Linked DNA regions of Homo sapiens. The protein of the gene in region 4 purifies or fractionates together with the protein of the main gene of each other region. This does not show direct contact. Each region holds a gene or a part of one and is shown on either strand. Other genes may lie near its edges.

Region 1 (7,151 bases), on a different chromosome or scaffold from region 4:
CAGCTACTCAGGAGGCTGAGGCAGGAGAATCGCCTGAACCCAGGAGGTGGAGATTGCAGTGAGCCAAGATCACGCCATTGCACTCCAGCCTGGGCAACAAGAGCGAAACTCCGTCTCAGAAAAAAATAAAATAAATAAAAAACAAGGACATGGAAAAATGAGAACCCTCGTACACTGCTAGAGAGGATGTAAAATGGTTACAGCCACTTTAGAAAACAGTTGGCAGCCCCTCAAAAAGTTAAATATAGGTACCATATGACCCAGCAATTCCACTGTTAGGTATATACCAAATAGAACTGAAGGCATATGTTAACGCAAGAACTTGCACATGAATGCTGCTAGCAGTGTATTTCATAGTAGCTAAAAAGTGGAAACAGCCCAAATGTCAGCCCATTCATCAACTGACGAATGGATAAACAAAATGCGGTATATCCATACAATGACATATGTCAGGTCTCTCCAGAGAAGGCGGACAAATAAGATGTGTACGTTCTGTTTTCATATAGATACGTGTGTGTATGTGTATATATACATAGAAAGAGAGAGAGACATTTAAGGAATTGGCTCACAGGAAGCTTGGCAAATCCAGAAACTGATAGAGTAGGCTGATGGTCTGGAGACTCAGGGAAGAACTGCAGTCTGAGTCCAAAGGCAGTCTGTTGACAGAACTTCTTGCTTGGGGGACAACAGTCTTTGTTCTATTAAGGTCTTCAACTGATTGGATGTGGCCGACTCACACTATCACACTATGGAGGGTAATCTGCTTTACTCAAAATCCCCTGATTTTAGTTTATTCATTTATTTTTTGAGACATGGTATTGCTCTGTTGCCTAGGCTGGAGCTCAGTGGTATGATCATGGCTCACTGAAGCCTCAACCTTCTGGGCCCAATCGATCCTCCTACTTCAGCCTCTTGAGTAGCTGGACTTGAGTAGCTTGCCTGGCCCCAAAATTCACTGATTTTAAATGTTCATCTCATAAAAAAAAAAATACCTTGAAAGAAACATCCAGAAAATTGACCAACCATCTGGGCACCATGGCCAGTCAAGCTGACACATAAAATTTACCATCACAAATGGTAATAAAGTAATAGAATGTAACATTTACATATTACTCTCAAATGAGTCAGAAAAAATATAGCATATATAACCTGTGTACATATATACAGAAAGAGAGTGATAAAGCAAACATAATAAAAAGTTGACAACTGGGCTGGGCACGGTGGCTCACGCCTGTCATCCCAGCACTTTGGGAGTCTGAGGCGGGCGGATCATTTGACGTCAGGAGTTTGAGACCAACCTGGCCAACACGGTGAAACCCTGTCTCTATTAAAAATACAAAAATCAGCCAGGTGTGGTGGTGCACCCTTGTAATCCCAGCTACTCAGGAGACTGGGCAGGAGAATTGCTTGAACCCGGGAGGCAGAGGTTGCAGTGAGCCAAGATCGCACCACTTCACTCCAGCCTGGGCGACAGAGTGAGACTCTGTCTCAAAAAAAAAAAAAATTCAACAACTGGGAGATTCGGGTGAGGGTGTACTGAAATCCTTGATGCTATTCTTTTTTATTCTTTTTATTATTTTTAAATATTTCTCATGTTTGTTTCCTATCCTTTGTACTATTTTTGCAATTTTTCTGCAAGTTTAAGGTTATTGGCAAAATAAAAGTTAAAATAGAAAAAGAACATAAAGTATATGCACAAAGAGTATTGTTTAGAAAAGAAATCTACCTATTGTGAGGCCTGTGCCTGGTACCAAGTACATGCTGAATAGCTGCTGCTGCTGCTGCCAGCTTTTCAGGTCTGGAGAGAAAGGTTATTTCTCATAAGAAGTCACAAGGGGGCATCCCAAAGCCAAGAAACACCATCTAGCACAGAAGTTCACTGAGTCTGTAGAGCTGTCGGTGTCCTACCGTTCCTTACCCAGAATGCACTCCTTAATCCTAAAGAAAAAAAAGAAAAAGCTTTGTCTGCTAAAAGCAGGGGCTCCTTCCTTTCACAGTGGACAAGGCTATGGAGCACCTGAGAGCTGGTCTCCTTTCCTTCTGTTTGGGTCTGGATTTCAGAGCAGCTGTCAAGGGTCACTGCATATATCACAACCAGGACATCGACTCTGGAGACGTATGAAAAGGAGCGGACGAATGTGGTGGCAATGTAGAAGAGTGAGCCCTGGAATGAGAACTCACAGACATTCACGTGTTGTGTGTACTCAGCCATATCCCTCCTTATCCTCTTTTCTTTTAATTGATTTTTAATTGTAAATGGACAATTTATACTTGTTTATAATTATGGGCCACAAAGTCCTATTGTGACTTATAAATACAATATGGAATAATTAAATGAAGCCAGTTAACATATCCATCACCTCAAATGCTTAACATTTTTTGGGTTGAGAACATTTGAAATTTACTCTTAGCAATCTACCATGCTATGCAATAGATCTCAAAACACAATATATTCCTCCTGAGACTTTGCACCCTATGACCATCATTTCCCCATTCCTCCTCCCCGAGTCTCTGTAACCACCATTCTACTCACTGCTTCTACATATATAAATATATATATATACATATATATATACATATTTTTTTTTTCTTTTTTGAGAGAGAGTCTCGCTCTGTTGCCCAAGCTGGAGTGCAGTGGTGCAATCTCAGCTCACTACACCCTCCACCTCCTGGGTTCAAGCAATTCTCCTGCCTCAGTCTCCTTAGTAGCTGGTATTACAGGTGCCCACCACCACACCTGGCTAAGTTTTGTATTTTTAGTAGAGACAGAGTTTCCTCATGTTGTGCAGGCTGGTCTCCAATTCCTGGGCTCCAGCGATCCACCCACCCCAGCCTCCCAAAGTGCTGGGATTACAGGCGTGAGCCACCACGCTGGTTCTTCCACTCACTGCTTCTATGAGTTCAAATGTTTCAGATTCTACAAATAAATGACAACATTTCTTCCTGTTTTCTTTTTTTCTTTTTTTTTTTCTTGAGATAGAGCCTCGCTCTGTCGCCCAGGCTGGAGTGCTGTGGCCCGATCTCAGCTTACTGCAAGCTCTGCCTGCCAGGTTCACACCATTCTCCTGCCTCAGCCTCCCAAGTAGCTGGGACTATAGGTGCCTGCCACCATGCCTGGCTAAATTTTTTTGTATTTTTTGTAGACAGGGTTTCACTGTGTTAGCCAGGATGGTCTCAATCTCCTTACCTTGTGATCCGCCCGCCTCGGCCTCCCAAAGTGCTGGGATTACAGGCGTGAGCCACTGCGCCCGGCCCATTTCATCCTGTTTTCTTTTTTTTTTTTTTTGAGACGGAGTTTCACTCTTGTTGCCCAGGCTGGAGCGCAATGGCGCAATCTCAGCCCACCACAACCTCTGCCTCCCGGGATCAAGTGATTCTCCTGCCTCAGCCTCCCAAGTAGCTGGGATTACAGACATGCGCCATCATGCCCGGCTAATTCTGTATTTTTAGTAGAGACGGGGTTTCTCCATGTTGGTCAGGCTGGTCTCGAACTCCTGACCTCAGGTGATCCACCCGTCTTGGCCTCCCAAAGTGCTGGGATTATAGGCGTGAGCCACCATGCCCAGCCTCATCCTGTTTTCTTAATCTGACTTCTTAGATGTTCCACCTGGAGCTCCTAGGATTTAATGTTTCTAAGTTCTGGAATATGTCCATTCTGGTCTACCTGACCCTGTCACAAACTGCACCTTGAAATGAAATTGCTCTAGTCACAAAAGTCTCTTGCTACCTGCCTGTGATTACACAGTGCAGCAGAAGGTGCTGTCCAAGGTCCAAATGAAGCCTCTGGTATTTAATGTATTGAGTCTCAGTTTCCTTATCGGAATAAAACAAATAATAACATTCGCTTTTTGAGTCTTGTAAGAATTAGATATATAAATATAGTATCTAGAACAGAGTAGATATTAAATGAATTGCAGTATTTTCTTTTTACACTTTGGTTTAAGTAACAGGGTGTTGTAGAAAAAAATGGGATTTAAAGTTAAGACAAAGTTCCTGGTTGAGTGCCGTGGCTCATGCCTGTAATGCCAGCACTATGAGAGGCCAAGGTGGGAGGAATACTTGAGTTCAGGAGTTTGAGACCAGCCTGGGCAACATGGTGAGACTCTGTCTCTACAAAAAATTTAAAAAATTAGCCGAGTGTGGTGGTGTGCACCCATGGTTTCAGCTACTTGGGAGGCTGAAGTGGGAGGATTGCTTGAGCCCAGGAGGTTAAGGCAGAAGCTGTAATCATGCCAACGCATTCCAGCCTGGGCAACAGAGCAAGACCCTGTCTTTAAAAAAAAAAAATTTACATGAGAATACGCCTTTAAAAACTCTGGTGGCCGGCCGGGTACGGTGGCTCACACCTGTAATCCCAGCACTTTGGGAGGCCAAGGCAGGTGGATCACAAGGTCAGGAGTTCGAGACCAGCCTGGCCAACATGGTGAAACCCCATCTCTAATAAAAATACAAAAAAAATATTAGCCGGGCATGGTGGTGCATGCCTGCAGTCCCAGCTACTAGGGAGGCTGAGGCAGGAGAATCGTTTGAACCTGAGAGGTGGAGGTTGCAGTGAGCCAAGATCGCACCAGTCTGGGTGACAGAGCGAGACTCCGTCTCAAAAAAAACAAAAAAAAGAACTCTGTCAACAACATTATTACCCCAGCCAGAAATGACCTTCCTCCGTTAAATAAATAAAAATCTTAATCTGCATGTCCCAGCTCAAGTGTTACATCTTTCAAGAAACTTTTCTCTAATAATCTCAAAAATATAAATAATATGGTATCCATATTCTGGACATTGTTAAAAAAGAATGAGGAACGTCTACATGTACTGAGATGGAAAATCTCAGAGACATTAAGTGAAAATAAGCCATGGAATACATACATTATGATTCCATTTTTATGTTTAGAGAAAAAAGGAGGTGACCATGCCATTCTCTTGCTTAAAACCCTTCAGTGGTTCCCCACTGCCAACCACGTAAAGTCTGAGCTCCTTAGCTAACATTCGTGCTCCTTCACTATTTGGGCTCTGCCAACCTCTGTGGCCTCATCTCCTACAGACCGATCTTGTCATTTTGAGCCCTGGGTTCCAGCTGTGACTAAAGTGCCCTCCACCATCTCTTCCTCTAGATCAGTGGCTCTCAAGCTTTAGCATACATCAGAATCACCTGGAATGCTTGTTAAAATACAGACTGCTGGCTGCACCCGTAGAATTTCTGATTTAGGTCTAGGATTGGGCCTAACAATTTCTATTTCCTGTCAAGTTCCCAGGTGATACTGATGCTGCTGTTCTAAGAACCACACTTTGACAGCCAATGCCTTTACAATGCTTATGATTCAGTTTCCTCACCTACATATAGGCTGACCAATCATGTTGGTTTGAGACTGCCCCAGTTTTGGCATTGAAAGTTTCAAGTCACAGAAAACCCCTTAGTTCCAAGCAAACTGGGACAGTTGGTTACCACCTGCATAAGAATCTCTCCCAGGTGGCAGCTTACAGGACATTTATTGCTACTGCCAAGCAGGCCTTCTCTATGGCCAGGCAACAGGGAGTGCTGAGGAAGGAATTCCATCGTCCTGACCAACTTTTTGCTGGAGTAAGAGTATTTAACAAAGTTCTTCATATTCAGGCACCTCCAAACATATTTTCTTTATTTCCTCCAGAGAACAGGCTTTAGTACTGAGGTCCTTGTAAACATTTAACAAAACTGGTTTAAGAACAAACTAAAAGCATCTATATCCTTGCCCTGTGTTGCTGGGGTGAGTTTATACAAGGAGAAGTTGGAACAAATGCAGTGGGCACAATGACCTTCTTACTCAGTTCAAAGTAGGTCTTGGGATGAGAGTTCCACACGGCCAGTACAGCTGACTTTCTGTGATTTCCAAGGGGTGCCCAAGACATTAAACGCCATGGTCCTTGGGAAGGACTGATGATGTTTCTGCTCATTGTTGATCAGGGTCAAACCTTTTCACTAACCGGGACTGCTCTTTCCAAGAAGTCAGAGGTCAGAAAGCTGGTAGCGTCGTACAAGACCGTCTCGACAGCATGTGTAGATCTGCTTCTCCCATGTGGCTACCTAAAACACAAGAATTCACAGTTCAAAGGAAGCCTGGGATTCTTCCATTTCAAAAAGATGGAGGCTTATGATTGACACACACTAGTCCCATGGAGTCTGAGAAGGCTTTATGAAGGCAACAGAATTACATCCATAATTATGTGCTTACAAAAATTGTTGGCCCATAGTGATGGATGCATCCCAATCACCAATGGTTGGGATGCACCATGACTATATAACAGAGAAACTAATTGGCCCAAGTGGAAAGCAAACCCATTAGTATTGTTCAGGTTTAGCACAGATGGTCTGCCTCTAGGGAGGAGATGGTTCAGAGATGGGCTTGACTATTCTTGAACCTTATAAAATTGGATGCAAAAATGTTCTGAATATGTGTCTTTTTTTCTGAGGAGGATTTCATCAACTCCTCAAGGAAAACAGCATGAATTCTGGAGTTAGTCTCAGCTTTACTACCAACTAGCTGCATGACCTAGGGCAACTTTCTCAACCCCCCAGGCCCCAGTTGCCTCATTTGTACAATGGAAATGTGTTGATTCAAAATATGGAACACTACACAAGAATTTTGTTTGTTTGTTTTTTGAGACAGACTCTTGCTCCGTCGCTCAGGCTGGAGTGCAGTGACGCCATCTTGGCTCACTGCAAGCTCCGCCTCCCGGGTTCACGCCATTCTCCTGCCTCAGCCTCCCAAGTAGCTGGGACTACACACACCCACCACCACGCCTGGCTAATTTTTTGTATTGTTAGTAGAGACAGGGTTTCACCGTGTTGGCCAGGATGGTCTCAATCTCCTGACCTCGTGATTCGCACCCCCTCCGCCTCCCAAAGTGCTGGGCATGAGCCACCACGCCCGGCCGGAACACTACGCAAGAATTTTTAAAAATGAAATAGATGGCTGGGCGCGGTGGCTCACGCCTGTAATCCGAGCACTTTGGGAGGCTGAGGCAGGCCTCAGTCGGGAGTTCAAGACCAGCCTGACCAACATGGAGAAACCTCGTCTCTACTAAAAATACAAAATTAGCCGGGTGTGGTGGCGCATGCCTGTAATCCCAGCTGCTCGAGAGGCTGAGGCAGGAGAATCGCTTGAACCTGGGAGGCG
Region 2 (8,035 bases), on a different chromosome or scaffold from region 4:
CAGGATGGTCTTGATCTCCTGACCTCGTGATCCACCCGTCTCGGCCTCCCAAAGTGCTGGGATTACAGGTGCGAGCCACCGCGCCCAGCTGACCATTCCCTCCTTGTAACGCCTCCAGTGAGGTGAGGTGGAGACAGCAGTGTGCTGTAGCCAAGCACACTGGGGTCTGCTCTCCCGCAGCTCCCGGGCACAGGCTGCATCGCTCCAGCTACCTGATGCTGAGGTCCAGTCCTGAGTGAGAGCAGCTGAGGGGTGAGGCTCCTTTCTTCCACCCTCCTTTGGGTGTGGCACACTGAAAAGGCTGGGGCCCCAAAAGGCACTGGTCTACCTCACAGGGTGGTGATTCCTCACCAGGAGAAAGAAGCCAAGGGAACCTCAGGCTGCTGCCCTTCCATACCCACTAAGCCCCTGTCATACCAGGGTGGCTGTGGGCAGACCCAAAGCTGTACCTCCTGGAGTGGGGAAATAGTCTTCACTCAAGCATTCCAGCCAGTCACTAAACAAGCAAATAACAGTAACAAGCCCCCATGGGGGAGCGAGGACAACCAGTATCAAACTACACATATTATCTAAAATGTTCAACTCTCAACAAAACATTACAAGGCAGGCAAAAAAAAAAAAAATCCATACATTAGGGGGATAAAAGAGACAGGCAACAGAAACTGATTGTGAGAGCAATCAGATTTCAGACTTAAAAAAAGACTTCAAAGTAGCTATTATAAACATGTTCACAGAACCAAAGGAAATGATGATTACAGAAGTAATGGGAGTTATGGGGACGGTGCTGCATCAACTAGAGTATAACATCAATAAAGAGAAATTACAAAAAAGAACCAGATGGAATTCTACAGCTGAAAAGTGCAATGACTAAAATAAAGTCAGTACATGAGCTCAACAGTAGATCTGAACTGGCAGAACAAATAATTGTTCTATTGAAGATAGATCAATAGAGATTATGCAAGCCAAAGAATAGAGAGGGGGAAAAAATTGAGGAAAAATGAAAAGGGCCTCAAAGAAATGTGGGCCATCATTAAGCACATTTAACATATACATAATGGGAATATTAGAGGGAGAGAAGAGAGAAGGAAAAATATTTGAAGAAACATTGGCTCAAAACTTTTCAAACGTATTGAAAAACGTAACTTACATAACTAGGAAGTTCAATCAACTCAACTCCAAGTAGTATAAACTAAAAGAGGTGCACATACGGACACATCACAGTAAAAATTCTGAAAGTCAAAGGCAAGGAGAAAAATCTAGAAAGCAACAAGCGAAAAATGACACATCACTTACAAGGGAACCCCAATATGATTAACCGCTGACTTCACAGTAGAAACAGAAGAGGTCTGAGGCAGTGGCATAACACACTCAATCTCACATTAAGTAAAGCTGTCTTTCAAAATTGAAGGTGAAATAAGGACATTCACAGATAAATGAAAACAGAATTTGTTGTTCGCAGAACCACATTAACAAGAAATACTAAATAAAGTTTTTCGGGTTGAAAGCCATTTACCCCAGATGATAATTCAAAGAAGGAAGGAAGACCTCTAATCCACAACCTAACCTTCTGCCTAAAGACACTGGAAAAAGAAGCAAAATAAACTAAAAGCAAGCAGAAGGGAGAATAAAGATTAAAATGGAAATTAATGAATAATAGAAAAATAGAGAAAACCAATGAAACCAAAAGTTGGTTCTGTAAAAAGATCAACGAAGCTGACAAACCTTTAGCAGACTGGCCAAGAAACAGAGACAAGACTCAAATTACTCAAATAGGAAATGAAAGAAGAGGCATTACTACTGACATTACAGAAATTAAAAGATTATAAAGGAATCCTATGTATAATCATATACCAACAAATTAAGTAACTTAGATGAAATGTACAAATTCCTAGAAAGATACAAACTATGAAAACTGACTCAAGAAAAAAACACACAACAGACCTATAACAAGTGAAGAGACAGAATTAGGAATTTTACAACTATCTACAAAGAAAAGCCCAGGCCCAGACGGCTTCACCACTGAACTCAACCAAACATTTAAGAGATAATCAATAACAATTCTTCAAAAACTCTCCCCAAAAACAGTAGAGGAGGGAACATTTCCTAACTCATTTTATGAGGCCATTATTACTCTGACAACAAACCAGACAAAGGCACCATAAGAAAACTACAGACTATTATCTCTCATGATATGGACACAAAAACCCTCAACAAAATACTGACAAACTGAATCCAGCGACATATAAAAAGAATTATACAACTATGACCAAGTGGGACTTATTCCAAAGATGCAAGTGGTTTAACATCTAAAAATTAACATAATACATCATGCCAATTAAATAAAAATCAACAGGACTTAAATGTGTAAAGAAATTTTTGTCCTGTTACAAAAAAACACACAAACTGTTAATATAGTAGTCTTTCTACTGTCTATTCCTAAAAGTATAAAAAATAATATATCTTAAATTATAAGTTATTTCTTATGAGGTCAAAATTATGTTTGCTTTAAAACGGACACAAATGTATTATTTTACAAAAGTGATAATCAAAACCCTACCCAACGTGAAGGATCACTGATCAAATTAATAAAAAGTGCTGATAATTTGGTCCGTCGGATTTCTTGACATGTTGCACATGAAACCGCCATGAAGCATTCAGCACAAGCCTTTCGGACTCCCCATACATTATCAGAACAAAGCTGGAAAAATCTGGGCAGCTATGTGAAAAGGAAAGAGTCTTGTTAGTTGGATAAAGATAGCAGATTTCATCAGTTACTTCGCTTTCATTTTCTGCTTTCACGCTTCTTTTGTTTGTTTGTTTGTTTTGAGACAGAGTCTCACTCTTTTGCCCAGGCTGGAGTGAGGTGGTGCGATCTTGGCTCACTGCAAACTCCACCTCCTGGGTTCCAGCAATTCTCCTGCCTCAGCCTCCCAAGTAGCTGGGATTACAGACGTGTGCCACCACGCCCAGCTAATTTTTGTATTTTTAGTAGAAATGAGGGTTCACCATGTTGGCCAGGCTGGTCTCGAACTCCTGACCTCAGGTGATCCACCTGCCTTGGCCTCCCAAAGTGCTAGGATTACAGGTGTGAGCCACCACGCCCAGCCTCAGTGTTTTAAATGTTGGATTGTCTTAAAAAGTAGGATCTATTAGTATTTATACTCAACAATTTTCAATAAATCACATCTAATTTACTGTCTATTCCTAAAAGTATAAAAAATAATGTATCTTAAATTATAAATATATAACATATAATAATATATCTTAAATTTTAAGTTATTTCTTATGAGTCAAAATTATGTTTGCTTTAAAACGGACAGAAATGTATTATTTCACAAAAGTGATAATCAAAACCCTACCCAACATGAAAGATCACTGATAAATTAATAAAAAGTGCTGATAATTTGGTCCGTCGGATTTCTGGCTATGCAAAAGCATACTGGATTGTCTTATGCAATATTTCTGGCTATGCAAAAGCACTCCCAACAATCATAGCTTAAATGTTTTACAAGAGCTTGCCCCTGAACTTAATTATTTTGCATAAGAGATGGCTTCAGAAACTCTTTAGATATGGTGACTTATACATCAAGTATAGGCATCTTGTGTACTATTTAAAACTAACTTGCTATAGATTTAATATGTCATCAACATTCTTGAGGGTTGCAATAAAATTAAAGGTTCAATTGAATAAGTAAGAATTGATTTGCTTAACAGAAATGGAAGAGGTGAAAACAGATCAATGGTTCTGAAACATATCCATATTTTTAATAAATATCAAAAAGATAATTCAAATGCCCAGATTACAGATATTTAAACTCCTAAATTCAAAATTATCTTTCTGGTTTATATTCATGGAATTGTGTTAATAAAACTTTGGAGTAAATGTGTGCATTTCAAACTTTATGTACTACTTTGTAACACACACTGTTTACTCCTTTATATCTGCAATACTTACCAACATTTCTTCAGTAGCTTGCTGGCCAACTACACTGCAAATATCTCCAAAATTGGCAGCACAGACCTGACAACAAAAGCATCATTGACATTTCAAAATATTACACATAAGGTTCTTCTAAGATAATCTTTTAAATATCATGTATCAGTACATTAACCACTAGAACTATGTTCTTAAACAGCAGAAAAAAAACGACAAAAAAATACCTTTCGAACGTGAAACATTCTGCAATCGCAGCACATCTCACAAAACCTAGGGAGGATAAGACGCTCTGTAATATCCTTCCCAACCATGGGAGCCATTTTGCACATTATCTAAAATAAGTAAGAACAAACACACACTGAAAATATCAAGTAAGCCTCTTTCAGTTAAATTAAATAATAAAAGTATATAATTTGAGGAAACATAAAATATGATATGGCATCATTATACTATATACATGACAGAAAACATTCATAGCCAATTATTAATTTCATCTTATTTATCTAAGTAGGAAACAAAGACAGATATTAACCACAATCAATAAAAACAACCAATAAATACTGCATGCCCAGTAAACCCACAGAAAATCCTAACAATTTCATTTTTGTCCACAGTTTCCATCTTACTACTACTTCATCATTTTGCCTGGTAATTTTAAAAGCAAAACAAACAAACAAACAAAAACCTACATTTTCCCAATTTAAAAAATTGGTGACTGTTCAAAGGGAAAACTATCCCCAGGAAAGATCTAGATTTAGCATATCTGTATTGCTAAGAAAAAATTCAGTCCTCGCCTTGCAAAGCACCCTGTGAACTAAAGCTCATACATATCAGAACCATGTCCTGGTTTTGCAAAGCTTCAGTTCCAGGGAAAGCATGAACACAGTTCTGATATAGGCATGTTTCAGTTAACACAATAGGAGGCAAAGTGAGGATTAACTTTATTTGAAAACTGGCCCTCTATTTAGATACATTGTTCCCACAGTTAATACAGAAAGAAATGGGATAGCCTGTTGTCATTTATCAATTGTATCAATTGCTAGACTGTACAAACAGGACAAAATAAAGAAGTAAAAGAGATACAGATTGCAAAGAAAGAAAATTCTCTCTATTCAAATACGACATGGTTGTCTACACAGAAAATCAGAAGGAATCTACAAAGAAGCCACCAGAATAAGTATGTTTAGGAAGGTTGTAGGCTATAAATTAGAATATAAAAATCTATTGTATTTCTACAAATTAGCAATGAACAATGAACTGGAAACATTTAAGAACAGTATCACTCACAGAAGTACTTTTAAAAAATATGAAATCGAACAAAATACACACAAGAACTTTCTGCTGAAAACTACAAAAGATTAAAGATATAAATCAAAGACCTAAATAAATAGATCTACCATGTTCATAGACTGTGAAACTGGCAATTGTCTCCAAATTGATCTACAGATTCAACACTATCCCCATGAAAATCCCACCATCATCAGAACTAGAGATAACGCCTACATCTCCTAAATCCCAAAACCAGTTTTGTTTTTTGAATAAGCATCTCCATGCTCTAGTTAACAATCCAAAGTTATGCTGTATATCACTGATGTAGCATAACTAAATTTATTTAAAAATGAATTATTTTTATTAAGAAATTAATTTTTATTAAGAAATAATTATTATTTCTCTATCTATTAAGATAGAGAAAATATGGGAGCCATGGAATATAAAACATGACCAAAAAACAAACACAACTGTAAGAGAATCATAAGACTCCTACTAGCACTGGATATAGTTTTTAAATTTTTTATTGTAATGTTTTACTAATTTTACATTGCATCGAGAATTATAATACAGCAAGTTAAACGGCTCAATATAAACCAAAAATTAGGCCAAGCCCAAAACTGATTTCCTTCATTGCAAAAATCCTAAAGTGAAAAAAGAAATAATGATGTTTTGGAACTAGGAAGAAGTGGTGGTTATACAACTTTGTGAACATATTAAATGCCACTAACACTAAAATGATTTTATGTCATGTAAGGTTCACTTCAGTAAAAACATTACTGAAAAAGTAAATTTATTATTAACTGGTAACTGAGTATCTAAAAATAATAGATTCAAGAAATTCTTCAAGGGAAAGAGACTAGAGAGATCATCTAATTCATCCCATTACTGATGATCCAGAAGCACTAAATATAGTGTGATTATTAAAAAATATCAACAAAGACGCAACCATATTATTTTAGGCTTAAGGAGTGAACTCTTACTATCCAAATAGATATGAATAAATTTCCAGACGAATTTATCACTTTTCTAATTTACCATGAGAATTACTACTATCCGAACTCAGGAACCAGATGTGAATCACAACAGATACTACTCTATACTAATTCATGCCCTATCATGGCCTTCAAGTAATCAGAATATTTGCAAACCATGTCAAAAAAAAACCCAGAAACTTCCTATTACATTTGACTTTATGATGTGCGTAATGACTTAACAATCTGTATATTCTTCTGATAACCATCACTGATGTCATATATCCTGGGAAATGTACTTGCCTGACCATCCTTCCCACAAAGACCATACCTGTCAGAGCAGGAGCAAAGTATTATTTTATTTCCACTGTGCTTACACAGTGCCTAGAAAAGTGTTCAATACCTACTGAAGGGGTTCAAGTGTTTCTTCGTTCAGTCCAGGGTTTTTAAAATTTTAACTGCACTGATAAAATAACCATTTCAGTTTTCCACTTTGACATAATAATTTACAATTATGTATTTTTTCGTATTGTGTGCAGAAGGTACACTTTCCTTTGTAAGCCTTTATGTCCCTTTCTAGCCCTGATTGTATTTCAAATTTAATGATTTGTGGCAACTTTAACAGAAAGCAGCCTTTTCTTTCTTTCTTTCTTTCTTTTTTTTTTTTTGTTTTGTTTTTTTAAGACAGAGTCTTGTTCTGTCAACCTGGCTGGAATGCAGTGGAATGACCTCGGCTCACTGTAACCTCTGTCTCCCAGGTTCAAATGATTCTCGTGCCTCAGCCTCCAGAGTAGCTGGGATTACAAGCATGTGCCACCACACCTGGCTAATTTTTTTTGTATTTTTAGTAGAGATGGGGTTTTGCCATGTTGGCCAGGCTGATCTCAAACCCCTGGTCTCAAGTGATCCTCCCACCTTGGCCTCCCAAAGTGCTGGGATTACAGGCATGAGCCACTGCACCCAGCCCAGCCTAATTTTTTTTTTTTTCCTTGAGGCGGAGTCTTGCTCTGTCGCCCAGGCTGAAGTGCAGTGGCCTGATCTTGGCTCACTACAACCTCCACCTCCTCCCAGGTTCAAGTGATTCTCCTGCCTCAGCCTCCCAAGTAACAGGGACTACAGGCGCACACCACCATGCCTGGCTAATTTTTGTATTTTTTTGGCAGAGCCAGGTGTCACCATATTGCCCAGGCTGGTCTCCAACTCCTGACCTCAAGTGATCCACCCACCTCGGCCTCCCAAAGTGCTGGAATTACAGGCATGAGCCACCGTGCCTAACCCCGGCCTGACTTTTAATAAGCACCTCTTATCAGCCACATTTTGCATAAGTGGAAAAATGGCATTTGACTTACAGCCACAGCTTCTGTTTTCACATCATCATTGCTATCTGGGGCTGTCAGCTCTATGAGGACAGGGCACACTTTGGTCTCCACATCAAATCGTTCAATGAGCTCCTGCTCCAACAGAGCCAGCAAAGCTGCCTGACTTGTTTTCCTCACCTAGGAGAAAAATAACAACACAAAGAAAGTACATATGCAACATGACAAAATTCTATCACTTGATTTTTATAAACAAAGATTTCTCATCTCAAAGGGACCCATAACTGGCAAAACTCCGCAAATAAATATTTGTGTTTATTTTCTTCAACTATTACAAAGACTACAGAACTTCGTAGATTGTGCTGTAACAGAGGAAGTGGACAGAGCCATCCTGGTAAAAGATGCCTCACAAAGTAACAAACCTTTTAAGGGACCGCTAGGAGGTTACCAAGTGAGAGTGCAGTTACTAGGCATTGTCCATAATGGCATTAAAGGGATCTACTAGATTTGTCAGACTCTAAACACATCTTGTCTAAGAT
Region 3 (8,035 bases), on a different chromosome or scaffold from region 4:
ATTTCATAAATGGTTTCAGAATAACTGTGTTTTTATATGGAAAGGAATAAAATTAAATCCCCACTACATCACACACAAAAGTAAATTCTAGCTATCTTAAGGACTATGAAAAATAAAAATTTTAAGCTATCAGAACAGAATCTAAAAGTTGCATATGACAGAAGACAGCATAAACAAATGACAGAAGGGAGATATTTGTAATATATTTATTAAACAAGGGATTTGTATCTAGAGTATATGTAGAATGTCTGCAATTCAGTAAGATAAGATTAAAGAATTTGGAAGAAAACTTAGCTGAAAGAGAAAACCTAAATATATAAGCATGTACTTAACCTCACTATTGTTCAGGAAAAGCCTAGGTAAAACAACTTTGAAATACCATTTCATACCCATCACTTTGGCAGAAATTCAGTAGCTGACAATTTCAAGTGTCTGAAGAATGTCTAGAAAATGGCATTCTTATTCACTATGGGTAGTATAAATTTAGTATGGCATAGTACAGTAAGTAGTATGACAGTTTCCAGTAAATTTTAGGCATTCACATAATGCAGTCAGAAGAAAGTCCACATTAAGATAAATACACTATAGAAATTTAGGCACAATGCTTATAGCAGCATAAATATTTAGCAAAAACTCAAATGTCCATGAATGAATGAATGCATGCATTAAATGTAATAGAAGATGGAACTATTACATCAGATCTTCATTTGTATCAGCAATTTAATGCCTTAATATGCTATTGAGTGAAAACAATTACAGAAAGATAAATTCAGTAAGATAGAAAATCGCAGCCTGGCATGGTGGCTCATGCCTGTAATTGCAGCACTTTTGGAGTTGAAGGTGGGAGTATTGCTTGAGCTCCAGGAGTTTGAGACCAGCCTAGGCAACATAGTGAGACCCTGTTTCTACCAAAAAAAAAAAAAAATTTTTTTTATCCAGGTGTGGTGGTTCATGCCTATAGTCCCAGCTAGCTACTCATGGGGGCTGAGGTGGGAGGATCCTTAGAGCCTTGGAGGCTGAGGCTACAGTGAGTGGTGATCGCACGCCATTGCACTCCAGCCTGGGCAACAGAGCTTGAGACCTTGTCTCCAAAAAGAGAGAAAAAAAAAAAAGAAAATCACATAAAGCCACACTGTGTATTGTTTCATGTGTATATAATGAAATACAGTCATGGGTGGAAAGGCAAAACACGTAATTTACAGTAAAACTTCCTTCAGGCCAGGTGTGTTGGCTTATGCCTGTAAGTAATCCCAGCACTTTGAGAGGCCTAGGCGGGCGATCACTCGAGGCCAGGAGTTTGAGACCAGCCTGACCAACATAGTGAAACCCCATCTCTACTAAAACTATAAAAATTAGCCAGGTGTGGTGGCGCATGCCTGTAATCCCAGCTACTAAGGAGGCTGAGGCAGGAGAATCACTTGAACCCAGGAGGCGGAGGTTGCAGTGAGCTGAGATTGCGCCACTGCACTCCTGGTTGACAGAGCAAGACTCACCTGGGTGACAGAGCAAGACTCTGTCTCAAAAAAAAAAAAAAAAGAAAAATAAGAGGTTTAACAATATTCTAGGATGTTTCTCATTTGAATCATTTTATAACATAAATTGTGTAAATTGGGATGTGATTATTTTTTCCTCTTTCATTTCTTAGCTTGAGGAAACTAATAGGACACTAACTAGTGATGTTGCCAATCTTGCAAATGAGAAAGAAGAATTAAATAACAAATTGAAAGATGTTCAAGAGCGTATGTATTAACAAAAAATGTTTATTTTTAATATACCTAATGTTTATCAGCTGCTGTAATTACCAATGTAATTTTAACTTTTTTCCATGTTTCAGAACTGTCAAGATTGAAAGATGAAGAAATAAGCGCAGCAGCTATTAAAGCACAGTTTGAGAAGCAGCTATTAACAGAAAGAACACTCAAAACTCAAGTATGTATAATAGAATCTAAATATGATTTTGAATTTTGTCTCAGTTTATCTCTTTTACATTTTACTTCTAGCATTACAAATTGGTAGCAGTAGTCATCGAATGTACCAATATTTGTGAAGTCACAATTACCTGATTTTTGCCAGGTTGAGAGAAGTTAGATTTGATTAATATTGTTAAATTCTATAGCAACTAAAATTTTTCTTAATATTTCCTTTTGGAATCACATTCTCTTTCAATTTATTGTTGTAATTTAATGTGTTTTTCTACTTTTAAGAACTGTTGGGATTGACCATTTGCTGACAACCTGAAAAGTGTCAGTTAGTTCACTCTCTGCCAACTCCTACAGTTGCATATGTACTGCATGAACAGGTGGGGTACTAGATACTCTTCACTGTTGTTGCACATAGAATATTTTATTAATTTGATGTCACTGCAAAATGTTCTTCCTCCAGAATAAAAGAAGAAAGGTCTGCCTATTAAAGTCTCTCTAGAACTAAAAAGTCAAAATGGTAGAAAGCAACATCAGATCAATTCTATAAATATTTAAATTATAATTCTCAGAAAACACGAGTAAAAATCTAATGGCTCATTGGATGGAGAAGGATGATGAGTAGTAAAGGAGGTGTATTATTTAAATATTATAGAAAGTGTTTCTTTGTAGCCCTGTATGTAGGGAAGGAGAGTATTTGTGATTGTATAACTTGTTGCTCTTGATGAGATACTGAGAAACCATAAACGTAATTTATTTTATTTATGTATTATATTTATTTTTACATTTTTTAAGGCTGTGAATAAGTTGGCTGAGATCATGAATCGAAAAGAACCTGTCAAGCGTGGTAATGACACAGATGTGCGGAGAAAAGAGAAGGAGAATAGAAAGCTACATATGGAGCTTAAATCTGAACGTGAGAAATTGACCCAGCAGATGATCAAGTATCAGAAAGAACTGAATGAAATGCAGGCAGTAAGAATACTTTTTGGACTCTAGACTGAAGACTTCTTTTTAAGAAGTAGAATTATTTTCATGTCTGTGTTTTACTGGTTATAGACCATTTCTATTTAATAATTATTATTGAACCAAGAAGCAAAATGTTGAGTTATGTTGCATCCAATTAACTTATTGTAATTAAATTTCTTATAGCAAATAGCTGAAGAGAGCCAGATTCGAATTGAACTGCAGATGACATTGGACAGTAAAGACAGTGACATTGAGCAGCTGCGGTCACAACTCCAAGCCTTGCATATTGGTCTGGATAGTTCCAGTATAGGCAGTGGACCAGGGGATGCTGAGGCAGATGATGGGTTTCCAGGTATGGATTTGTTTTCAGCACTAATATTTATCTTAAATATAAATCAGTTGATTGTTTTAAGTCTTGCGACTGACTGCTCTGAAGGAAAAATGTTTGTAATTTCTTTAAGGGAAAACCTACTCCTTGGAGTAAGGATTCAAGTAACATTTCAAACTTATTTTATTTATTGATTTTTTTTACAAAGTTTTTCATAAACATACAAAAGAAAAACTCCACATGTCTAGTTTTTAAATTATTATATTAGCTCTATTTTTAAGCTTTCGTTTCATTTTCTCTTCTTTCTGCATTCTTACTTCCTTTTATGTTGGGTGTTTAGTTCATATCACTCAGTCACACACTATGGAATCCATGTCATTCACCTACCAGCGTTCCTCTACTTCTCTCAATATTGCCACTAAGCCTTCCAGTTCTCACACGCTCCTTGACTCTGATTCTGACTCAGAAGAAGAATCTTTGCCTTACTTACCCATTTCATCGGAACCTAATGGTACAGGTGATATCCTGAAAATCTTCTCATCTTTGGAGTTTTTCCCACTACCCTTAATTTTAGTCCTTTTGAAGATTTTTTATGTAACATTAACTAATAACCACTAACTCTAATATGTTGTTGTAGACTCAGTTAAAAATAAACTGCTGCATGAATAAAGAATTTGTTTTTAAGGTATTTTCTCATGGCATTGCTGTTATAATTGATAGATGCCAACTTGCGAGAAATGGAGTAATACATTATATTGCTTAAGAGCGCATGGTTTCACTGCTTGTTTTAGCCATTTTCAACCAAGAAGAAATTCTTCCTGAAGTTTCATAACAAGAGTGGTGGTACAGAAAAAGTACTTCGACTGATTCAAAGGATATGCTTAAGGTTTTTACTGAGTACTTACTGACATTATCCTAGGCATATGTCCTTCATAAGAAACATGAAAGAATTTGGCCCGATCGTTACCCTGAAAGAGATTACAGTTTAAATGAAAACAGCAGAGAGTTCCGTCATTCAGAGTCAGAGGCAGCCCTGTGTGATCTTTCAAGACTGCAGTTTCCTCATCTAAATTAGGAAAATAATTCCTGTTCTGTGCGGTTTTTTTAGGATTAAAGAGAATTTGTGTAAAGCATCCAGCACGATTGATACATAATAGAAGTTAAATAAGTGATAGCTACTTTTACTATTAGAATAACTTCCCCAAATGCTATTTCACATATTTATTTCATTAAAAGACATTGATCAAATGTCATTAAAACAAATTCCGAGGATTCATACACATTCCTTAGTTGAATTACAATGTTACTGATTTTGATATTTTGGAATTTAGAAATCTTTTGATTATTTTGCTGCTTATTAACCAAATTTTATCTAAAATGTACGTAATTGGTCAGGTGTGGTGGCTCATGCCTATAATCCTAGCACTTTGAGAGGCTGAGGCAGACAGATCACCTGAGGTCAGGAGTTCGAGACTAGCCTGGCCAACATGGTGAAACCCCATCGCTACTAAAAATACAAGAAATAGCTGGGCGTGCTGGCGCGTGCCTGTAATCCCAGCTACCTGGGAAGCCAAGTTAGGAGAATCACTGGAACCCAGGATGCACAGCCTGCAGTGAGCCAAGATTACGCCACTACATTCCAGCCTGGGCGACAGAGCAAGACTCCATCTCAAAAAAAAGAAATAAAATAAAACAAAATTTACATTATTTTATTTTATTATAGTTATTCTAAAAGTCCATTTTCTCTGAACACGTAATTATTTAAAATATTTACTCCTTGAAAATGTGCACAATGTGGCCCTCTTCCAAAGGAAAAATAAAGGAGTCTAAGGCAGGTGTACCAGTGAGAATAGAGAGTTGCTGCTGCTGCCTTTTTTTTTTTTTTGGCAACTTTTCTCCTGAATTTTATAAATGCATGAATTTAATCAATGGAACATTTGACTTTATAAAAGTATAGACTATCTGTTTCCAATATGATATAACCTGGATTTTGTTTTGCATTGCATAACTTTTTACTACTGATCCTGTACTATTACTGTATCCTAGATGATGTATAGTGATAAATTCTAAAGGATATATTTTATTTGTTTTATAAATTTCATATTAAAATTTTATTAAGTTCTTTGTTATCTAAGGAGAATTGTTATCTTTAGCCTCACATGTTGTGCTTATTTGTAGAATCAAGATTAGAAGGATGGCTTTCATTGCCTGTACGAAACAACACTAAGAAATTTGGATGGGTTAAAAAGGTAATTGATACTTTGGAATATGAGCCTTTTGTTTTTGTTTTTGTTTTAACTCTAGTCATTTGGCTTTTGTAGTTGTAGGATATACATGACTGGTACCTTTAGACACATAGAACTTGTTTATACTTCAGGATTTGAAATGATATGATTTTATTTATCTTTGTAAAAAATTTTTGTCCTCATACCTTGTTAATAATAAGACAGATTTTATTGTTAGGAAATTGTTGATTTTGATACTTTTGCTGTTTTGTTGGGAAAAGAACTGTGAATATAGTAAAAAAGACCCACTTATTTATTTTCCTCTGTTACTATGATTATTGATGTTATTATGTTTATTTTTGAGAAGGTTACTAATGATGTTGGATCCCAAAGCTAAGTCCAAAAAAATTTGACTTTACTTCTCCCCACAGTTTGCTTATTTAAAATATCTATTAATATAAACAAAATTTATTGTTATTTTAAGGAAGACTGTCCTAAAGATATATTAAATACTTTTTAGTTACTTAGTATTTTATGATTTTTATTGCTAATATAGAATTTATTTTCAAAAAAATCAATAAATAAGGTATATAAAAACTTGAATTACTGATTTCTTTTCTCCCTGTTTTAACAGTATGTGATTGTAAGCAGTAAGAAGATTCTTTTCTATGACAGTGAACAAGATAAAGAACAATCCAATCCTTACATGGTTTTAGATATAGAGTAAGTGTTTTTGTTAGAATATTTAGAAACTATATCTTTTAAAGTATAAGAGACTAACAATGCAATTTATTAGTCTCATAGTATAGCTCCTACTGTAATATTGTTACATTTTCCTGTGATTTGCTTCATACAGATGAAAGTCTGGGATACAGGGTTAGTTAAAACATCTTTATTTCATGGGCCTTTGATACATTATTTTTTGAAACTAATTAGAAAATTTCTGACATAGAGGTTTCTAAAAATCTTAATTAATTATAGAATTAATAGAACAAAATATTCTGAGTTCCTAACATGGGTCAAAGTAGTCAGTGTTTAACGTCTGATGTAAGTATAGAATAATTAATATATAATTTGATCCTTGGGTGATATTTTATTCCTTTATTCAAAATTTTTTATAGCAAGTTATTTCATGTCCGACCAGTTACACAGACAGATGTGTATAGAGCAGATGCTAAAGAAATTCCAAGGATATTCCAGGTAAACATAGTTTTGTTTATATTTGGTTGGTTGGCTTTGTTTTGTTTTTTTCACATTTAGAAGTTCTCAAGTGACATGACATGTTAAATCTCTTCATTCTTTGACCCTCTTCAGGTTACCTTTATGTTTCAGTCCTATTTAAAGATGGTTTGTTGCTTTGTGACTTTTGTGCTTAATTCTGTTTGGGAACGTTTTCATTCCTTTCTCCATTTTATTTGTTAAAGCTTGCGGTGTGTTTGTATCATGTTTCTGGTCTTTGCTATATTTTTGTTTAAGGTTGGTTATGACTTTTTTTTAAACATGAATTTTTCCCTTTCTGTTTTTGTTTAATCTCAGCTCTCTAGAAAGTTAGAAAAGTCAGTTATGGAGGTAAATTTTGTACCTTGTAGCCCTTTTACCTCCGATTTAAAGTGAAGCCACATTCTTCCCTTTACTACTTCCATTTTAAAATTAGTCAAACCAACAATGACTTACTGATTTCCTTCTATGTAAGAGTCGTTGTGCTTGGTGTACTGTGTGGAAGTTGGCTCCTTGTTTTCTGGATGCTTGTCATGTTTATTTGGAGTTTAATACACATCCTTTCCTCTTTCTTTTCTCTCTCAACTCTCAAAATATAGGACTTTTAAAATGAAGCTGTGCTCATAGCTGTTACCCAGTTTTCTGTTAAGTATTACAAAACACCAATTAGTGTGATTGCCACATTTCTTCAAGTGATTATTTTGAACAGTCTCTCCCAGAAAAACTTCCTAACACCTATGAAGTTACCTTTTGCTGACCTATTCTGATAGTGCTGCTAAAGCATGGGTGTTATAAAGAAAATAAGGAGGCAGCATTTGAACAGGATCAGTTCTTTTGAAATGCAAACCAAAGTGACTGTCTGATGACTTTTCTTATATAAGCTCTTGATTAAGTTTGCGTAATCAAGAGCTTAAGTTTGTACTTCAGATACATTTTCTTCTCTTTGAATAATTTAGGCTAATTTTATTTTACTTACACTATCAGAATTGTTCCTACATAAAAAAATAGCATGTTTGGAAATCACTTATTGTTCTTTTGGCATTCATAGATTCTGTATGCCAATGAAGGAGAAAGTAAGAAGGAACAAGAATTTCCAGTGGAGCCAGTTGGAGAAAAATCTAATTATATTTGCCACAAGGGACATGAGTTTATTCCTACTCTTTATCATTTCCCAACCAACTGTGAGGCTTGTATGAAGCCCCTGTGGCACATGTTTAAGCCTCCTCCTGCTTTGGAGTGCCGCCGTTGCCATATTAAGTGTCATAAAGATCATATGGACAAAAAGGAGGAGATTATAGCACCTTGCAAAGGTAAATGATAAATTACTTGCTCCATCGATATTGGTTATGTTCAGATCATTTTAAGCACATTAATTT
Region 4 (8,035 bases):
AACCATGCCCGGCCTGAAACCATATGTATCAAAGGAAACTAAAACCAATACTTAAGGAAAGTTTGTACTGTGACTGGGTAAATTATGGCCTTGCTACATTAAGTGCAATTTCTTTTGCCCTCTCTGAAAATAGGTAATTTTTTTTTTGCTATTGTTTTCTAGGTATCTGAGAATTTCAAGCCTTCTGGAGAGATAATATGCTTTATTTATCTCTTTTTTTTTTATCACCAATTTCCAGTAAAGTGCCTGGCACAGAGGTACCCAATTATCTGCTGAACAAAACTAAACTATATGATCATAGAGTCATAATAAAAACTAACTTTGAATAAGAGAAAGGGAGGAATGTTGAGCTATATGGAACCAGAGATAATATAATTTAGAAGCATTATTCTCTTGGAAAACTGTGGTATAGTTTAGTATAGCAGGTCTGTTAAAGTAGGGGAATAAGTCATGTAGAATTAGTCAAAGCTTCTTCAAGAGTAATAAGCTCTGTGGGGGCAGGGAACTAAGACTACAAACTCTTCCCTAGATTTCATGATATAATACCATCTCTATTCTCACCCCATTACCTTAGCCTACTTCCAGTAAATAGTTTTAATTGAGTGTAAAAGGTAGCTTAAACAAAACACTAACAATATACTCTGTGGATAATTGAGAGGATGAGTCCAGACCTACAAAAGCATGAGAGAGAAATATAAGCAATATCGCTTAAACAGAGTTTCCTATTAACTAAATAGTTATTATGAGTGTGTTAATTCTTATTTTACTTTATTGTGAGATAGGGTCTCACTCTGTCACCCAGGCTAAAGTGCAGTAGTGCCATCATAGCTCACTGCAGCCTTGAATTCTTGAGCTCAAGTGATCCTCCCACCTCAGCCTCCTCAGTAGCTAGGACTATAGGCATGTGCTACCATGCATAGCTATTTTTAATTTTTTAGTAGAGGCAGGGTCCCGCTATGTTGCCCAGGCTGGTTTTGAACTCCTAGCCTCAATTGATCCCCCTGCTTCAGCCTCCCTAAATGCTGGGATTACAGGAATAAGCCACCATGCCTGGTCCATGAGTGTGCTACTGTTTAGCTTTCTCAAACTCCATGAACTTACTTGTTGCACAAAGCATGTAAGTATATCATAAAAAAGAATAGTTCACTGAGTCAACCAGTTTAACAAAAATTTATTTCTGATGCTATATATAGTGTTATTTGGTTCTAAGGATATTAAAATCATTACTATGTAGATCAAATTGAAAAGAATGTTTTTTGTCAATCAATAGTTTTTGGAAATGACTAGTGCATATATACTGGGAAGTAAGCACATCTGGAATGTTGATTTAGCTATCTATTTGCAAAATAAAACAGTCTATTCTTTTGCTTTAACCAAAAGGACTATAATGTCATAAAAAGACCTCTGAAAATTTTCATTTCCAAGACTTCAAGAAATTAAAAATAATGATGGGTTTATTTTCAGAACAAAGAGATTTTTAAAAAATCCCGCTAATCTTTTCTTTAATAGTAAGGTCAAAGGAATTATTAATACTTTTAAAAATCTCAATAGTTTCTGATTCTTTTATAAGGTTTTGAGTTTCCAGCAGATTCACTTTTTAGTATTCTCCATTTGACCTTGGAGCTTCTGACTGAAGTTTTGCACAACCTAAGCAAAACAAGCAATAGGAAGTTTTTCAAGAGTTCTCAGAAAGAGATGGACTAAATTCTCTTTTCTAAATCAGGAATGAAAAGACATTTTGACCCATTCTAAATATCATGCCACTAGAGATGCTATCTTTAGGGAGAGAGAGAGGAAAAAAAAAACCTGATTATCAAATCCCTCTTAGTGATTAAAGATCAAATGGAACTTTTCACAAGAAGTGCTAGCCATGATGTCCTGATTCATTGATACTTCCCACACAGAAGTAGCTCATCATTTCAGCAGCAGGATGGGCACAATTCATTGTCTAAACAGAAACAGTACTGAGTTTGTATAGTTTAATATCTATAGCTAGCAGCTAAAGTTTTTTGCTTATGTGTACTGACTTTGTGGAAAGGCCATTGGTTATAATATTTCATTCTAATAGAAGAGAACATTTCATAATACATAATTTTTACTAGTTCTTCTTTGTTCTCATATTCTGAACTTGAAACTATCCTAAAGCCAATTTATTGTTTCCCTGTTATAAGAATGTGGATCCACTGGTATGATCTATAATCTACAACATTCTATTTACAACACAGAACATATGTCAGAAATACCTTTATCTTATGGGCCCTCTCCCCACTCCCTCCATTTTTATTTTTAATACCTCATTCCCTGTTGACATGACTGCAACCACTGGAAACTTATTAACTTCAACCTCTGTGACACCTACAGTTGCCAGAAGACCAATCTCTGAGGGGCCCATGTGGGTTCCTTTGGCCAAAACACATTCCCCTCTTTTAATGTCATGGCCGATGGGTCTGAAAGTCAAAGCAGAACCATAAGCAGTGTGATTAGAGAACAACATTTTCTCAACTCAGAGGGAAACTTTAGTGTCAAAAAAGGACATTCAAGAAGACAAAAAAGTCTAGAAATAAAGTAGTAGGAAAACAATGAATTGAAGGGATTCTAAAAATCCTATGCTTTTTTAATTTTAAAAGTTAAATCACACAACAGAAAACAGAAATAGGATTTGAATGTATTACTGCTAAAGAAAAACATGTTACTTCATATTTGAAATTTTTTTTCATGAGTACCTGTGAATAAAATTACTTTACAAATTGTTTTATGTTACATTATAGTAAAAATACCAATTGTAAACTTTCTTTGATAAGGCAAGAATTTGTATGGCAATATCTAGCGGCATTAATGATAAGAGGTCCACAGCTGGCTAGCTTTGTCAAGGAGAATAATGCTAATGAGGCTACAGTCATAGAGGTAATTTCCATATGGACCACTTAGGTTGGTCCTGATCTGTGGCTACTGAGGTACATTAACCTTGGTGTGCTGCCATAGGGATGGGAGAAGTGTAGCTTCGTTACAAAGGGATGTTCAGCAAATTAGTATTAATGGAATCAGGGTAAACATATTCCATTTTAAGAAAAATAATTTAAGGTATATGCACTATTTATCATAGCAAATAGCCTCATCTTTGTATATAACAAGGAACAGATTATTCCATTATTATTGGTAGTCACTAGAGCATATGCTATTAGTTAATTGTGTAAATACCCAATTCTGGTATTATCTGAGTTGATACCAAATTCCAGATTATTTAGGGATGGGATTGGGTAATTCTGGATTATCTAGAAGTAGAATTAACTGTAGAATATGTAGGCTCATGACTTTACCTCTTTCTCATCTTGCTTTTGACTAACTCGCCTTTACCATCTTCATTAAAAAGTAGGCAGGGCAGATATGTGATACAGAATTCATAACATTCATTTTGCTTTTTGTTAAAGCCCTGAAAATTAATGGCTAACTGACATGGCTGCAGATTTATAGTAGCCAGGGTTTCCTGAGTAAATGATCATGTAGAAACAAAAGTAGGCTATATATTCTATGTGTTTTGAAGTTACCTGATATCTTGGCCTGGCCGAGCTTGCACCAGAATTCGCACTTCAAGTTCTTCAGTGCCCTATAATAACAGCCGGTCATGTAATTTCAAACAGAATTTCTGAGCAGTAGAATTTAGTTACTCCGATACTTTTACCATCAGATAGGCCCAGGATATATACAAATATAGACAAAAAGAAAACTATTTGCTACACCCTTTGAAAACACTGAATTTCTAACACAGGTTCCTGAAAAATTAGAAGGTTTGGTGCCAATAAATAAAAAATTTTTTTCTCCAATTTTTATGCTTTTAAAAAATGTACCAATTCAAATATTAAATCTTGTTTATAAGATTTAATATTTGAACTAATACATTATATAGAATTTGTTTATATATTTTTATATACATATGTAGGTGGCTACCCTAATAAAGTGAACGTGTGTGGAGGTAATATCTTCCTTCTTTTCCCATGAATCATGGGTTCAATACCATGCCAAGGTTACCAAATACTTGCAGAAATTTCAGTAAAGGACTTATAGTTTGCCTGGTAGTAGATTTCTGTCCATTAATTGCAGTAATCAATTTTACATTTATGGGCTGTGAATAATATTGTGACATTGGAACTGTGTCTTGTCATCTGGCAGAGTCTGTGGATGTATGTGTTCTGGAATTCAGTGCTTTGCTGGCTTCCCTGATGCCAATAAATCTGCTTAGGCAGTTTTAACAGCAGGCAATGTGATCTGTTTGCCAAGGGTTGAATTTTATAAGCCTTACATATGGAAAGGTGATTAAAAAGAAAATCTCCAGATCAGGGAAAGTGTCTGTCTCTTGGCATGGCCAATTTTACTATCTACTCGGCTTGGGAGAATATATGTTTATTTTTCACCTCAGCTTTAAAATATATCTTTACTTTCTTCATAAAACAAGTAAGAGAGCTGATTATTAAAACCTCAGTTGAATCTATTCTACTTTTATTACTGGCTTATACTCTGGTTTCAATAACCTGCCACTATTTTCAGTGAGATAAAGGCTTGCTTAGGTCCAAAAAGATTCCAGCATCTTTTACTTGAGGCAATGGAGGGAGAACTGACATACACTTAATATTTCCAGGCTGTCATTTGGTGGCACAGCTTTTTCCAGACTTACAGAAAACCAGAGGTGAAAGGGTCATTTGGTTCAAATGCTTGGCTTAGTGTAATATTCAAGAACTTGCCCAAGTGCTCTTTGTTAAATTCTTCTCTAGTAAATTCTGATTTCATGAACTCCTTGACATTTTATCAGAAGCTAGTCTCAATGGCAAATTTCTCAGCTGGAAGGTATGTCAACCATTAATATCTCTGCTCTGGAAGGTATGTCAACCATTAATATCTCTGCATTTCTTTCTTGAGGTACTTTCTTTCGTTGTTTGCATGTGAAACTGCTTGGGTCAAATATGATTCAAATTCTGCTATAACAGCAATGATCATAGAAACCCCTCCTGTAACAACAGATTTTCAAGATTAAGGAAATTTCTTATTTACTGGAGACTCATATACTACAATATAAGATCCCACCATAAGCAAAAACAAAACAAAACTAAACAACCCAAAAAACTGGGTTAATCTCACAAACACTGCAGAAAATGGTTGTGACATAATACTGCCATAGGAACAACAGCACAGTAAGACTTGGTGATGACGTACATCATCTGATTCCCTGATAAGTTCGGTATCTTCCACTTGTACTACTGCATCAGCACCGCAGGGTATTGGAGCACCTGTTGTAACCCGCATGACTTGTCCTGGCATTACTGTCTGAGTTGGCTGGAAATAAAGATGAAAAAGACAGTTGATGTACTTTGCTGCTGCAAAGGAAAAGTCTGCAGAGGATGTTAATTTTTTTAATATTAAAAAATAAACCATAAAAGAAAGTCTTACAGTCTTATTCATTTTGGGCCAGTGTAATAAAAGCTATCCACAAACAGGTGCACTCACACTAAAGGGGCTTTAGGTTCATTTAAGCTGATTTTATGTGTACTTTAAGGTAATGACTATTCGGTGTCTTGGTGCTCTGCTTTACTTTTGAAGAACTGCCATTTACATTTGCCACTTTTGCCTCTCAAATAATGTACATTTTCCTAATATATGTAAAGTGATTTGAGAGTCTGTAAGTAAAAAAATTGCTAGGACATACATTGTGAATAACAATTACAAAAAAAAATCTTCATAACTTATTGAAGTTCTAATGTTTGAGAAATGCAGTACTTTATTAACTAAACTTTTTGGTTAAATAAAGGCAAGCCAGAAATATTTTAATTATTGCCTTTGAAAATATTCTAAAACACATTAGCTCACCTATCAATTAATAATAGAGGTTGAGCAAATATAATTAAATCATTTAAAAATGATTCCAGTGTCTGTAATGACCTAGGTTAAACATTACTTTTGAAAATGAAAAACAAGATTTTCATTGTTTGTGCTCTCATATTGATGGTATAAGAGACAGAACCTTCCCTGCTAACTTCTTACAACATGAGGAAAAGCATTTTTCTGTAAGATTCATCTGATAGATTTGATCTGATAGAGAAGTGATCTGAAAGTCACTTGTCAGGGGCAATGATTTAGACTGGAGTTTGGAAAATGAATGCTTCAAATTCTCCCTAAGAAAAAATCCTGAGACAATATTAATCCCCCCTGCCAAAAGATTCCTTTCTAAAGATGTCTGCCTCATAAGTATAGTCACGTGCTGCATAAGGATAGTTTGCTCAATGTTGGACTGCATATATGATGGTGGTCCTATAAGATTACCATATTTTCTACTGTACTTTTTGTTTTGATAAACAAATACCATTATAATTGCTTACGTATTCAGTAATACTGTAATATGCTGTGCAGGTTTGTAGCCTCGGAGCTACAGGTCACACCATGTAGGCTAGGTGTGTAGTGGGCTACTCATGCAGGTTTGTGTAAGTACACTCTATGATGGTCGGACAACAAGAAAATTGCCCAACAACATATTTCTCAGAATATATCTTCATTAAGTAACTCATGACTCTATTTAAAATCTTAAGTCCCTACAATGTGAATATATTTACCACTACTGAACTATAAGCTTAAAAACTGTCAAGATGGTATATTTAATGTTATGTGTGTGTATGTTTTGTCATTGTTGTTATTTTAACCACCAAAATAAGACAAAGTAAAATAAACCACACACACACACACACACACACACACACACACACACACACCCCTTAGGGAATGGTTAAGAAAAAAAAATACCTTACTACTGAAAGTACAATCAAAGTAAAACAGGAAATTTATTACAAAAGTCTTAAAAATCTTCTCTCCATAATATTATTACTGTAAGCAATACTACCAATAACTAATATTTATTGAACCCACAATCTATGCTAGGTACAATGTTAAGTGCATTATATATTACAGAATATAAGCCTTACAAAGACAAAGATTTGTTTCATTTTCTGTTTGCCTCTCCAGATCACATCATCATTCTCTACTCTGTGCTGTGGTCCAGAAGCTGACCTCTATGGACTATTTTAACCAGTTTCCCACCACTTTGGCGTCTGGTGAGACTCAGCCAAAGGGAGGGGTCAGTAAGAGATGTAGAGGGTAGGAGAGAGACAGAAAAGTAGAGTTTTCATTCCCCTTGCTCTTTTCCTCCTGGGCTGCAGTTTGGTGATGGTTAGGGCATCTCTCCTACTGAGAGCAAGAGCTGCTGTTGGGCAGTCCTCTCCCACAGATATGAATCTTCCCAGGTTCAGGTACCATTGTCTTTCTTTGCTCCTTCAGACTAAGATGTGGTAAGGAAATCTCACTGTTGCTAGCTCCTGGGTGCTGCAGATTCCTTTATTGGTTTCCCTTAACTCCATCCAGACATTGGAGATAGTTTCTAATCTTCTTTAATCATCCTTTTTCCAGACATATTGCTCTGTTATGGCAAGGCTTAGAAAGTATGTTGCACACACTTTGCCAAGCTGAGCACCTACGCATCCCAGGCTGAGCTGATGTAGTCACTCATGTCCTAGGGAAACAGAGTGCTGATTGAGCCAAGATATCCTGACCTACAGGCCAAATAACTCTAGTACCCTGCTTCTCTGGAGCTAGACTATAGCCCCTTAGAGTCTGAGCTGCTGAGATACCCCCCTCTCTGGGGAGTTGAGTCATTTCTGTGTTGATCCTTGGCCCCCCCGGGGATCAAACCACAGCTGCGCTCTGCCATTCTAAGGTATCTGCTGCTTCTGCACCTGGCCTCAGAGTCTGAAGTGAGGACCTGCGTAGCCCCACCATCCAGGGGTCTAGGGTCACTACTACACAGTACCTTATCCACTGTGACCCGAGCTGCTGCTGAGCCCTACTGGCTCTGGTTCCTGAGCTGCGGCCATACCCTGCTCCCCTGGCCAAAACCTTTTTCTTTGGAGTTTGGTCAGTACTACACCCTACCCATGAGGTATAAAATCACAGGTACAACCAGGGCACCTGGGTCCAAGCTGCTAGGGGGTGCCTCAGTCAT

What was found.
Region 1: the proteins of GPHN (region 4) and PAAF1 fractionate together in Homo sapiens (co-fractionation; one large-scale study listed by BioGRID). This does not show direct contact.
Region 2: the proteins of GPHN (region 4) and PPP4R1 fractionate together in Homo sapiens (co-fractionation; one large-scale study listed by BioGRID). This does not show direct contact.
Region 3: the proteins of GPHN (region 4) and ROCK2 fractionate together in Homo sapiens (co-fractionation; one large-scale study listed by BioGRID). This does not show direct contact.

The regions. Positions count from the first base shown.
Region 1 is NC_000011.10:73,926,192-73,933,342, reverse strand, and holds the end of PAAF1 (proteasomal ATPase-associated factor 1), read right to left. Parts: intron 6,059-7,151; coding exon 5,981-6,058; 3' UTR 2,229-5,980; downstream 1-2,228. UniProt on the Homo sapiens protein: Inhibits proteasome 26S assembly and proteolytic activity by impairing the association of the 19S regulatory complex with the 20S core.
Region 2 is NC_000018.10:9,580,560-9,588,594, forward strand, and holds part of PPP4R1 (serine/threonine-protein phosphatase 4 regulatory subunit 1), read right to left. Parts: intron 7,677-8,035; coding exon 7,530-7,676; intron 4,270-7,529; coding exon 4,162-4,269; intron 4,022-4,161; coding exon 3,956-4,021; intron 2,717-3,955; coding exon 2,558-2,716; intron 1-2,557. UniProt on the Homo sapiens protein: Regulatory subunit of serine/threonine-protein phosphatase 4. May play a role in regulation of cell division in renal glomeruli. The PPP4C-PPP4R1 PP4 complex may play a role in dephosphorylation and regulation of HDAC3.
Region 3 is NC_000002.12:11,192,385-11,200,419, reverse strand, and holds part of ROCK2 (rho-associated protein kinase 2), read left to right. Parts: intron 1-1,645; coding exon 1,646-1,739; intron 1,740-1,834; coding exon 1,835-1,929; intron 1,930-2,714; coding exon 2,715-2,894; intron 2,895-3,071; coding exon 3,072-3,240; intron 3,241-5,394; coding exon 5,395-5,465; intron 5,466-6,075; coding exon 6,076-6,164; intron 6,165-6,562; coding exon 6,563-6,641; intron 6,642-7,707; coding exon 7,708-7,969; intron 7,970-8,035. UniProt on the Homo sapiens protein: Protein kinase which is a key regulator of actin cytoskeleton and cell polarity.
Region 4 is NC_000014.9:67,107,430-67,115,464, reverse strand, and holds part of GPHN (gephyrin), read right to left. Parts: intron 7,092-8,035; exon of another isoform or gene 7,003-7,091; intron 5,326-7,002; coding exon 5,206-5,325; intron 3,605-5,205; coding exon 3,546-3,604; intron 2,448-3,545; coding exon 2,294-2,447; intron 1-2,293. UniProt on the Homo sapiens protein: Microtubule-associated protein involved in membrane protein-cytoskeleton interactions. It is thought to anchor the inhibitory glycine receptor (GLYR) to subsynaptic microtubules.